Regions from separate parts of the Homo sapiens genome. Here region 2 is linked to region 1. The links come from fine-mapping of genetic effects on gene expression. A gene starts in region 1. The other region holds a variant in brackets. All regions are shown on one strand. Distances are from middle to middle. Region 1 holds the start of SUN2 (Sad1 and UNC84 domain containing 2). Region 2 overlaps GTPBP1 (GTP binding protein 1).

Region 1 (5,366 bases):
CACTTATTATTATTCTGATTCCTTGGCTTGTGGCTTCATCACTCCAATCTCTTCCTCCATGGTCACATTGCCCTCTGCTCGTCTTCTCTGCCTCTCTTTGGTTTTTTGTTTGTTTTGAAACAGAGTCTTGCTCTGTCACCCAGGCTGGAGTGTGGTGGCTTGATCTTGGCTCACTGTGGCCTTGACTTCCCAGGCTCAAGCTATCCTCCCACCTCAGCCTCCTGAGTAGCTGGGATTACAGGTACACACCACCATGCCCAGCTAATTATTTTCTTTTTTTGTTTTTCTTTTTTAGAGATGGGTGGTGGGGGGGGGGGGTCTCACTAATTTGGCCAGGCTGGTCTCAAACTCCTGAGCTCAAGCAATCCACCTGCCTCAGCCTCTCAAAGTGCTGGGATTACAGGCGTGTGCCACAGTGCCCAGCCCCTATCTTTCTCTTAAAGGGTTACTTGTGTTACACTTAGGGCCCACCCTGATAATCTAGGATAATCTCATTTCAAAATCTTTAGTCACATCTGCAAAGTCTTTGCATGTAGATAACAGTCACAGATTCCAAGCATTAGTACCGAATTCCTGTAGCGACCATTATTCTGCCTGCTCCCAGCCCCCAGAGGATGCAGAGTTTAAGAGGGGCCTGCCTTCAGTCAGCCTGTGGGCATGAGCCTCACATATCCACTCAGCACATCCTGGGAGGGGACCTGGACTCCCCCCCGACCCCAGCAAGGCCAGACCCCCCTGTCTGCCAGGACCCCCGGAGAGGGGGAAGCAGGCTGTGCAATGGAGGAGGTAGGATGTGGCAACTCCATAGAAGTGGTTAGGACAGAATTCTGGAGTTGCGCATCCCAGAGATGAGGAGTCAGAGAGGCCCTTCCCCTACCTGGATGCTGCCCCTACGTCTGATTTGAATTCTCCTTTCATTGCTCCATCCAGCAGACACTCAGACCAGAGCCAGGCTCGGTACCAGGCTCTGGAGAGCTTGTCCATGTCCTCAAAGAGCTTGCAGTCTAAACCTAGGAGTGATAATGGCCAGCACCGTGGTCTCCAGGAGGGTGGAAGAGCAGGAGACTCTTCTCTTTCCAGAGCAGGCAATGGAGGCCCAGGAAAGGGGACTGTTCTTGTCTGGAGTTGGGCTGAAGCCGCTTTAGCATGAGGGTTTTGCCTTTCCTCAATCCTCCGACCCCACAGCCTTCCTGTTCCTGCCTCGGTGATTTTGTCATTCTTGTCTCGTTTCCTCTTGGTACTTTAAAAGTAAAATAACGACTGTTCATCTGCCCTTAGAAGGGCTGGCACAGAAAGAGATTCATCCCAAGCTGTGCACCTGCTCTATCTGTACAGTTGGCGGATGGGGAGCCAAGGAACAGGACCCCCGGAGTCAGGCAGCATTTTACTCAAACGCTGAGCACTCGTTCCAAGTCTGAGTAAGGTAGAAGAATGAGTGGCCAGCCCTGCCTTCCCACAGCTCAAGTGCAGCAAGCACCGTCCTTAAAACAGAAGAGCTGGCCGGGCGCGGTGGCTCATACCTGTAATCCTAGTACTTTGGGAAGCCGAGGCGGGAGAATCACTGGAGCTCAGGAGTTCGTGACCAGCCTAGGCAAACATAGTGAGATCTCGTCTCTATTTAAATAAAATAGAAAATCTGTTTAAAACAAACAAAAAATAGAAGAGCTGTCGTGAAACTTGGGTGCTCTGGGTAAAGCTTGGGAAGAGGCAGGGCCTCCCAGCATGTCTGGAATCCCCAAATTAGCAACCTGTTTCCTTGTCTGAAAAATGGGTGTAGAAATGGCCGGCTAAGAGGACAACGGCACTGGTGCCGGGTGTTGAGCAAGCCCTCGACAGCCTCACCGAGAGTGCACCAAGGGCCACCCGCGCGCTGCCGCTCCCAGGGCTCCCACCCTCCCCTCGGACGCCGGCCTGGTGAACCAGGCTGCAGGCGCGCGTGGGAGCGCTCAGAGCTGTCTCAGGTGTTCTGAGCCGCCAGATCGGGAGTCCAGTGCCCTGCTGAGCCCGAGCCCCAGCACAGGCTCCCGTCGCGTCCTCCCGCAGCCCGGGGTCCCCGCCCGCCCAGCGCCTCCCACGCGCGGACTCCTAGGCTGAGCGCGCAGGGCAGCGGGGCCCACGCGAGGGCGGGGCGAGCCGGGGCTTTGTGTTCAAACCGGCCAATGGGTGGCGGCGGTGGGCGGTGACGGCCGGCGGGGCCTGACCAATGGGCTGCGGCCTGTCAGCGTTGACTGACAGGCGCACACATACAGAGTCGGCCACACGCGCGCCGCCCGGCCCCACTCGCGCAGCGCGGGCCTCCGCCGGCCGCATTGTCCGCCCGCCCGCCTTGTCCCGCGTCGCCGCTCTTCGCGTGCCCGCGCGCCCCGGGCCCGGCCGCTGTGTCGCCCTGAGCGGAGCGCCGCCCGCGGGATCCCCACGCGGAAAGGGGGCGCGCCCCGGCGGCGGCCTGGCCTCGGACGCCCCCGGCCGGGCTAGAAGCCGCCGCGGCAGCAGGTGAGTGCGGGCGAGCTCAGGAGAGGGTTGGGGGGCCGCGGCCCGGCCTGACCCCGGGTCACCGTCGGGCCACTCGGGCGGGGCCGCGCCGCCAGGCCTGCTTCCTCCTCTCCGGGACGTGCTGGGCCGGATCCAGCCTCCACCCGGGTCCGCGGCCCGCGCCCTGACTCACCTCCTGGCCCCCGCCCCGCCTGCCGCGCCACTGGTCAGCCGGGAGGGCGGTGTCTGCGGGCGGGACTTCCCGGGCAGCCTCCCGGGAGGAGGAGGGCAAAGGCCGACTGCCCCAACCCGGCCCCGGGCAGCGCCTACGGGTTTTGTGCCAGACAGGCCGTTTCCAGGGACAGGCAGTTCCCAGCCTCTGCCTGTCAGAACTCAGGGCCTCAGAGGAAGGCCCGTTTTGTTCAGTTCTAAAACAAAACAAAACAAAGCAATGGGGGGCGCGGTGTGACTTAGAGAGCCAGGAGGCGCGCCTTTGGTGACAATTTCTGCAGGTTTGGCCTGTGGGAATGAGGGCAGAGGGAGTTAGCACCGGGCGTTTGGCAGGTCCCACAAGGGCGTGTGGCCTGGCTGTGCCCAGGGAGTGGAAATGTCACGAGGAAGATGCCCCAGATCTGGTTTAAGTCTGAAGATGGATGGAGATGTTTGTGATGGGGAAGGGCGGAATTGAGAAAGGAAGTCGCCCAGCTGAGAAGTGGGGAAGGATGCTTTCCGATGAGCGTTTCCTAACTGATTGTTAGGGAGGAGGTGGGGCGGGGGTGGTGTCTATTATGATTCGCAGTAGTAGATTTCAGCTCCCAGAGGCTCACTTCTTGTTTTGGAGAATGGGGCCTCGACCTTTTTCATCTTGTGAAACCCAGACTCAATGGTAAACTGTTTTGTGATGCCAGGATGCCGCAGGAAAGACTGAGAGGCATCTCTGGGAGTTCTGGGAGGGCGGAGGCGGGTGCTGACAGTTTTCAGCACTCCCCGCTCAACCTCCATCAGAATATTTAGTTCTTCCCAGCGGCAGCTTGGGTATGGTATAAACATGTTGCCTTGTTTCTGCCCTGGGCAAAGGTGTCACCTCCTTCAGCAGGACAGAGGCTAAGAGGAGTCCCTGTGTGGGCAGCTGGAGCCTTCAGGTAGGGACCGTACGGGCGGGGCAGGGAGGGGGGAGGGGAGATTACCTTATAAGGACAGGAATAGAGACAAGGACCCAGGCCAACTTCCTGCTTTTCCTACTACCAATCGGTCCCTTTTCCAACACCAGCTAAAAGTAGAGGGGATGCCAGATGGGCGTCTGACCTGGGAAGATGCCAACAAGGCCAGGACATGAGGCTGCTTGTTTTTCAGAGGAGGACTTTCTAGCTGGACTAACCAGACCTTCGGGTTTCTGCAGCCTGGGTTGGGAAGTGGACTTCTATACTCACCACACAACCCAGAGAACTGGTCATTTAAGTATCAACCAGGAATATTAGAAGTGATCAAAAGTCACAAGCAAGTGCTAGGAATTCCCAAGTGACTTTGTTGTACGGGCCAGCAGAGGCACTAACGTTGAGACTCCCCATGTTGGCAGTCGGGGACTTTGAATTCGGGTGTCTAGACCTGAGTGGTTCATTAATCTTCCTCATGTCACAGAATGCTACCTCTTGCCAGATCTTTGCACTTTGGCTTCCTTTGTCCTCATTATCAGTTCCAGAGCCTTGATTTCTGCCCCACATGGTGACCGGAACTGACTGTAATTCATGCTGCCCTCCTCCTCCCTATTTTGTTAGTTTGCTAACAAATATTTGTTGTGTAACAAGTTTGTATACAGCCTTGTTTTGCGCATGTGTGAGGCTAAAAAAGATTCTAGCTGAGGACACACAACTAGAATCTTCAATACATTCCTGAAACAACTGGAAAACTTTATGCCTGAGTAGAAAGACCCAGGCCCTACAGCCTGTCAGAGCTGAGCCCAAACCCTGGCTTTGGCACTTACAGGCTGGGGACTGTGGACAAGTTACCCATTGCCTCAGTGTCCAGGTTCTTCCCTTGTAGATGGGAGTAATGATACCTACCTTGCTTCTAATAATATAAATGAGGTATACAAGGAGCCCGGTCCCAGCAGACACTTACCATTTTATCATCATCTTACCAAGATGTGGCAGCACAGTGTGCACCGTGGGGACAGACAGTGCAAGCGCCATCAGGACGTAGGTGGGAGCCTGGCCAACTTGGTGAAACCCTGTCTCTATTATTAAAAGAAAAGAAAAGAAAAATCCTTTTGGCTGAGCGTGGTGGCTCATGCCTGTAATCCCAGCACTTTGGGAAGCCGAGGTGGACAGATCACCTGAGGTCAGGAGTTCGAGACCAGCCTGGCCAACATGGCGAAACCCCGTCTCTATTAAAAATACAAAAATTAGCCAGTCCCGGTGGCGCACACCTGTAATCCCAGCTACTTGGGAGGCTGAGGCAGGAGAATCGCATGAACCTGGGAGGTAGAGGTTGCAGTGAGCCAAGATTGCACCACTGCACTTCAGCCTGGGAGGCAGCGCGAGACTCCATCTCAAAAAAAAAAAAAAAAAAAAAAAGAACATAGGTGGGGTCTACATGGGAAAGGTTTTCCATCAAGGTTCGTTGGGGCCCTCGATGAACGAGCACATGTCAGCAAAGGGACACAGCTAGAGCGAGACTGGGAGAAGTCTCTAGGGAGAAGGCAGGTGGGGTGGCTGGACCACCGGGCGTGCAGGCAGTGACCAGAAGCACCAGAGTCTCTGCTACTTGTCAGAGGTCGAGGAAGACCCAATTCTGGCTTGTGCGGAGCTCAGCACCATGAAGGATAAAGACAAGGAAACTGAGAATTGGGAAGCCTGTGGAAAGCGCCCTGGAAGAGGCTCCAGAGTCACGAAGTG
Region 2 (5,371 bases), 33 kb after region 1:
TCAAGAATATCAACAAGCTCAAATGGGGCTGTCTGAAATGTGCCCCCTCTGCAGGCTAACTGATGGTACTGAAGATCACATCAGGGCAGAGGCATAGGCAAAAAGCCAGGCTGCTCTGGGCCTGGCGCTATAGACCAAGCTCTGGGCAAACAGGCAGAGTTAGTAGAGTTCACCATTATCGAGAGAGCATCTCTCACCAAGGAGCTGAACACCTTGAGGACAAGGATTGTGTTCAATTCAACTCTGAATCCTCAACATCTAGATGAAGAGTCTCGCAGAACAAACATCCAATAAATATTTATGGAATGAAAGAATACATTAATGAGTAAATGCCAAAACTGATCTGATTAGTGAGCTTTTGAGGAACAACAGTATAAAAAACTGAGTTACAAAAATGGCTGTGTATTTACCATCCATCAGCCAGGCAGGGCATTAAGTGCTCTACATACTTCATTTCCAACATTCACGGGAGCCCTACAGGGAAGGGAATGTTATTCCCATTTCACAGATAAGGACACTGAAGTCTCAGCCGGGATGCCAACCCCAGGAATGCCAGCACCTCACAATCTGGGTTACGTGATATTACCCCTGGGCAACAATGCTGGCTTGGGAGACCCTGCGCTAAGATTGGAAGCTTCTATTTCCTCCGATCTCTGAATAGGGAGAGGTGTTGATGTGGTGTTTTCATGAGACCTTATGCCCAAACTGACAGCCATTCCAGGCCCATCACTCACTGTGGTCCTGCCTGCAAGGGTGCCTGTCTGAAGTGTGCGCTCCCCACGCGTTACCTTTCAGAGCTGAAGTTGGAGGCTGTGACAATCACATCATCTTTGCTCTGCACCAGCACGGGGATCTTCCGGCAGCCTGGTGACTTCAGCAGGCGCTGTAACAGCTTCAGGGTTTCTTAAAGGGTGCAATGGAACAGAATTAGGGGGACACAGCCTTCTCTTTGGCCAGGCTTTAAGAGCAAGATGGGTCCACTCATTACTGATGCAAGCAGGAGACAGACAGATAGATGGACCAGTGTTAAATGCCACAATGCCTGGAGAAGCAAAAAGGAGGATCAAAACTTTGGGTGCTGCTAGAGTAAGAAAAGCACAGATGGGGCCTCTTTTCTAGGGTTCTGCGTCTGAAACCTGGCAGATTTCTCTTGTGTCTAGACGACCTGCCTCCTGTAAGCATGTGACTTGAGGGTCCCCAAGAAAAACAATTCACTTCACACTTCAGTTCTCAGAATGCACTACTTCCTGGAAAAAAATCTCATCCAACAAAAAGGATCTCTTAGACATTTAGAAGTCTACAGAGACCCTTATTATGAGGCTTCCCAAAGGGATACTTTTCTACAATCTTTAGCAGTGAGGGAGAAAGGCATGAAGGCTTAGTCCTGCAACCCTGTGTCAAAGCTTTGGTGGCAAAAGGTAATCAGACCCTCTGTCCAAACTTCCCCGTATATATCCAGCTTAGCTGGTAGAGCCCAACTCCTTCTGCCTGGGGTCACCTGAAAAGAGGTGCCAGATTCAGGATCTCAAGATTTCTGCATTTGGAACCAGAAGGAACAAGGAAGAGGATAATTCTAGGCTGTGTTCAGACCAAGAACTAAATAGGGGAGGAAGTAGCAGAAGATTCTGGGCTGATGGAAATTCAGGCCAAGACCTAAGTACAAGACAAAGGAAGTTTCGCCCGCGTGCACTGAAGATGGTAGCTGCTGTGGGAAGGCTACTCTGAGCATCGGCTGCCCGACATGTGAGTGCCATTCCTTGGGGCATTTCTGCCACTGCAGCCCTCAAGCTTGCTGCTTCTGGAAGAACGAGCTTGACAAACATATTATGGTCTGGTTCCAGTCAAGCAAAATTCTTTAGCACCAGCTCCTCATACCATGCACCTGCTGTCGCCCAGCATGCACCCTATTTTAAGGGTACAGCCATTGTCAATGGAGAGTTCAAAGACCTAAGCCTTGATGACTTTAAGGGGAAATAATTTGGTGCTTTTCTTCTATCCTTTGGATTTCACCTTCGTGGTCCTACAGAAACTGTTGCTTTTAGTGACAAAGCTAAGGAATTTCATGATGTGAACTGTGAAGTTGTGGTCTCAGTGGATTCCCACTTTAGTCATCTTGCCTGGATAAATACACCAAGAAATAATGGTGGTTTGGACCACATGAACATCCCACTCTTGTCAGATTTGAGCAAACTTCCTGAGACTACGGTGTGCTGTTAGAAGGTTCTGGTCTTGCACTAAGAGGTCTCTTCATAACTGACCCCAATGGAGTCATCAAGCACTTGAGCGTCAATGACCTCCCAGTGGGCCGAAGCGTGGAAGAAACCCTCCACTTGGTGAAGGCGTTCCAGTATGTAGAAACCCATGGAGAAGTCTGCCCAGCAAACTGGACACTGGATTCTCCTACAATCAAGCCAAATCCAGCTGCTTCCAAAGAGTACTTTCAGAAGGTAAATCAGTAGATCACCCATGTGTATCTGCACCTTCTCACCCCAGAGAAGAAACACAGTTGAAGCCTGCTTTTATCATTTTATAGATGATTATCTGTAGAAGGCAAGGAACCAATTATGCTTGTACTCATAAATATTACTCTAAATGGCTAAGGCCTTTTAAACATGGTTAGTTGCTAGTATAAGGAATCCTTTATTGGTAACATCTTGGTGGCTAGCTAGTTTCTACAGAATATAATTCGCCTCTGTAGAAGGCAATTCTTAGATCACATCTTCAGTAGAAACACTCTTCTGTCTTAGCCTTACTTGAAGCTTGCCTACAACAAAGTGGAGCAACACACATTGAAAGCTTCTGATCAAGGGTCCTGAAATTTTCATCTTGAATGTCTTTGTATTAAGCTGAATTTTCTTTTAAGCTAACAAAGATCACAGCTTTCAATTGTTATCAGCAGTCAAATTTAACTCCTGCAATGAATGTTTATGTGATTGAAGCAAATGTGAATATTATTTTAAAAAGTGGCAGAGTGACTTAACTGATCATGCATGATCCCTCATGCTTGAAATTTATAGTTTACCTAGTCATTTTACTTATTTTATTCATTAGCTAACTTTGTCTACATATATTTCTAGATACTGACCAGTGTAACGGATTATAAAGGATAGTTATTGGATCCAGGGATTGCATTTTGAAATTATTATAATTATTTTCTTTGCTGAAGTGTTCAATGTAGAGCACATAATAAAAATAAACATATTGTAAAATAAAAAAATAAAAATAAAAAAGAAAAGAAGTTTCTGGGCTAAAGCCGTGGTAGCAGACCACCTGAAGGCACAGCAGGTGACAGCCCCAATCAGAGGGGCTGCTGCTAGCTGGAG[G/A]CTTCACTTACCTTGCAGGATGTTGGCAGGACACATGTCAATCTTGGTGACTACCACAAAGACAGGTACATTGAGTGCCAGTGCCAAGCCCAGGTGTTCTTTGGTCATCCCCACGATGCCAGCATTGCTGCCCACCTGCCCCAACACAGAAAGGAAGTGTCAGGACGAGAGAGAAAGAGATTGCTGCTGGGTGGACACAGGGGCTCAAAAGCAGATGTGGATGAAAGCTGGGCTGGGCAAAAATCACGTTAACCCCTGACTCGATGATGTGGGGCGTCAAAATCGGAGGAGACTTGCAAACAATAAAAAAGATAAACCCAGTCAGGGAAACAACTGTCCTGAGCCATCAAAATGAATCCAAGTCAGGAGCAGTGGCTCATGCCTGTAACCCCAGCACTTTGGGAGGCCAAGGAAGGCAGATCACTTGAGGCCAGGAGTTTGAGACCAGGCAGGACAACCTGGTAAGACCTCCGTCTCTACAAAAAAATACAAAAATTAAGGCTGGGCACGGTGGCTCACTCCTGTAACCCCAGCACTTTGCGAGGTCAAGGCAGGCGGATCACCTGAGGTCGGGAGTTCGCGACCAGCCTGAACAACATGGAGAAACCCTGTCTCTACTAAAATACAAAATTAGCCAGGCGTGGTGGCACATGCCTGTAATCCCAGCTACTCAGGAGGCTGAGGCAGGAAAATCGCTTGAATCTGGGAGGTGGAGGTTGTGGTGAGCCGAGATCGTGCCATTGCACTCCAGCCTGGGCAACAAGAGCGAAACTCTGTTTCCCCCACCCTACAAAAAAAAGAAAAATTGACTGGGTGTGGCAGGATACGCTGTAGTCTCAGCTACTTGGGAGGCTGAGGTGGGAGGATCACTTGAGCCTGGGAGGTTGTGGCTGCAGTGAGCCATGATCGAGCTACTGCACTCTAGCCTGGGTGACAGAGCGAGACTGTGTCTCATAAACAACAACAACAAAAAGTGGATTCAACTTAACATCACTGGCCCTCAGTTTCCCCATCTGTAAAATGGGGAGATAACAATATCCACTTCAGAGGGTCACTTGATGTTTAAATGTCACAACACACATGAAGTGTCCAGCACACAACTAGCAGGAACTAGGTGTTTAAGCAATTGCACCTGTTATTACTATTACTATCCTTCCAGTAACAATAAATGTTTCCAAATATCACCGTAAGGACTGGTTACATAAATCAGGGCACGTGTATGAAATGTGCTGTACAAAAGAAGAAATTTTTATCTACTGATATGGACTAATCTCCAAAATATGCTTTTAAGGGGAAAAAAAAAGTAAGTTGCATATAGAATGCTATCATAAAAAGAGGTGAGTGTTCAGCTATGCATGGTGGCTCATGCCCATAATCCCAGCACTTTGGGAGGCCAAGGTGGGTGAATCACCTGAGGTCAGGAATTCGAGACCAGCTTGGCCAACATGGTGAAAACCCCTTCTCTACTAAAAATACAAAAAAAAAAAAAATTAGCTGCATGTGGTGGCAGTTGCCTGTAATCCCAGCTACTCAGGAGGCTGAGGCAGGAGAATCGCTTGAACCAAGGAGGCGGAGGTTGCAGTGAGCCAAGATTGCGCCATTGCACTCCAGCCTGGGCAAGAGTGAGACTCCATCTCAAAGAAAATAAAGGCCAGGCGCGGTGGCTCACACCTGTAATCCCAGCACTTTGGGAGGCCGAGGCGGGCAGATCATGAGGTCAGGAGCTCGAGACCATCCTGGCTAACATGGTGAAACCCTGTCTCTACTAAAAATACAAAAAATTAGCTGGGCATCGTGGCGGGCGCCTGTAGTCCCAGCTACTTGGGAGGCTGAGGCAGAAGAATGGCATGAACCCGGGAGGCAGAGCTTGCAGTGAGCTGAGATCGCGCCACTGCACTCCAGCCTGGGCGACAGAGCGAGACTCCGTCTCAAAAAAAAAAAAAAAAAGAAAGAAAGAAAATAAAAGGCAGTGGGGGATAACTGGTGACTGATTCATGGCTTAAAAAAAGCAGCTGAAAGATATTTGGGAAACATCTGAAATAATATAA

The links. PIP is the estimated chance that this variant, and not a neighbour inherited with it, causes the effect.
Region 2: its variant is the best candidate, but not a certain one, in a credible set for the expression of SUN2 in whole blood (TOPMed, PIP 0.69).

Annotation. Positions count from the first base shown.
Region 1 is chr22:38,752,890-38,758,255 of GRCh38, reverse strand. SUN2 (Sad1 and UNC84 domain containing 2) reads left to right here and starts at 2,258. Exons shown (of 18, transcript NM_015374.3): 1 at 2,258-2,493. RefSeq lists enhancers at 977-1,116, 3,375-3,444 and silencers at 1,875-2,424, 2,535-2,884.
Region 2 is chr22:38,719,829-38,725,199 of GRCh38, reverse strand. It overlaps GTPBP1 (GTP binding protein 1), which reads right to left. Exons shown (of 12, transcript NM_004286.5): 5 at 3,335-3,458; 6 at 789-903. It also overlaps the pseudogene PRDX3P1. Among named protein-coding and RNA genes, the nearest start is that of GTPBP1, 17 kb to the right of the region's middle. The variant G/A (reference allele first, on the strand shown) is at 3,324.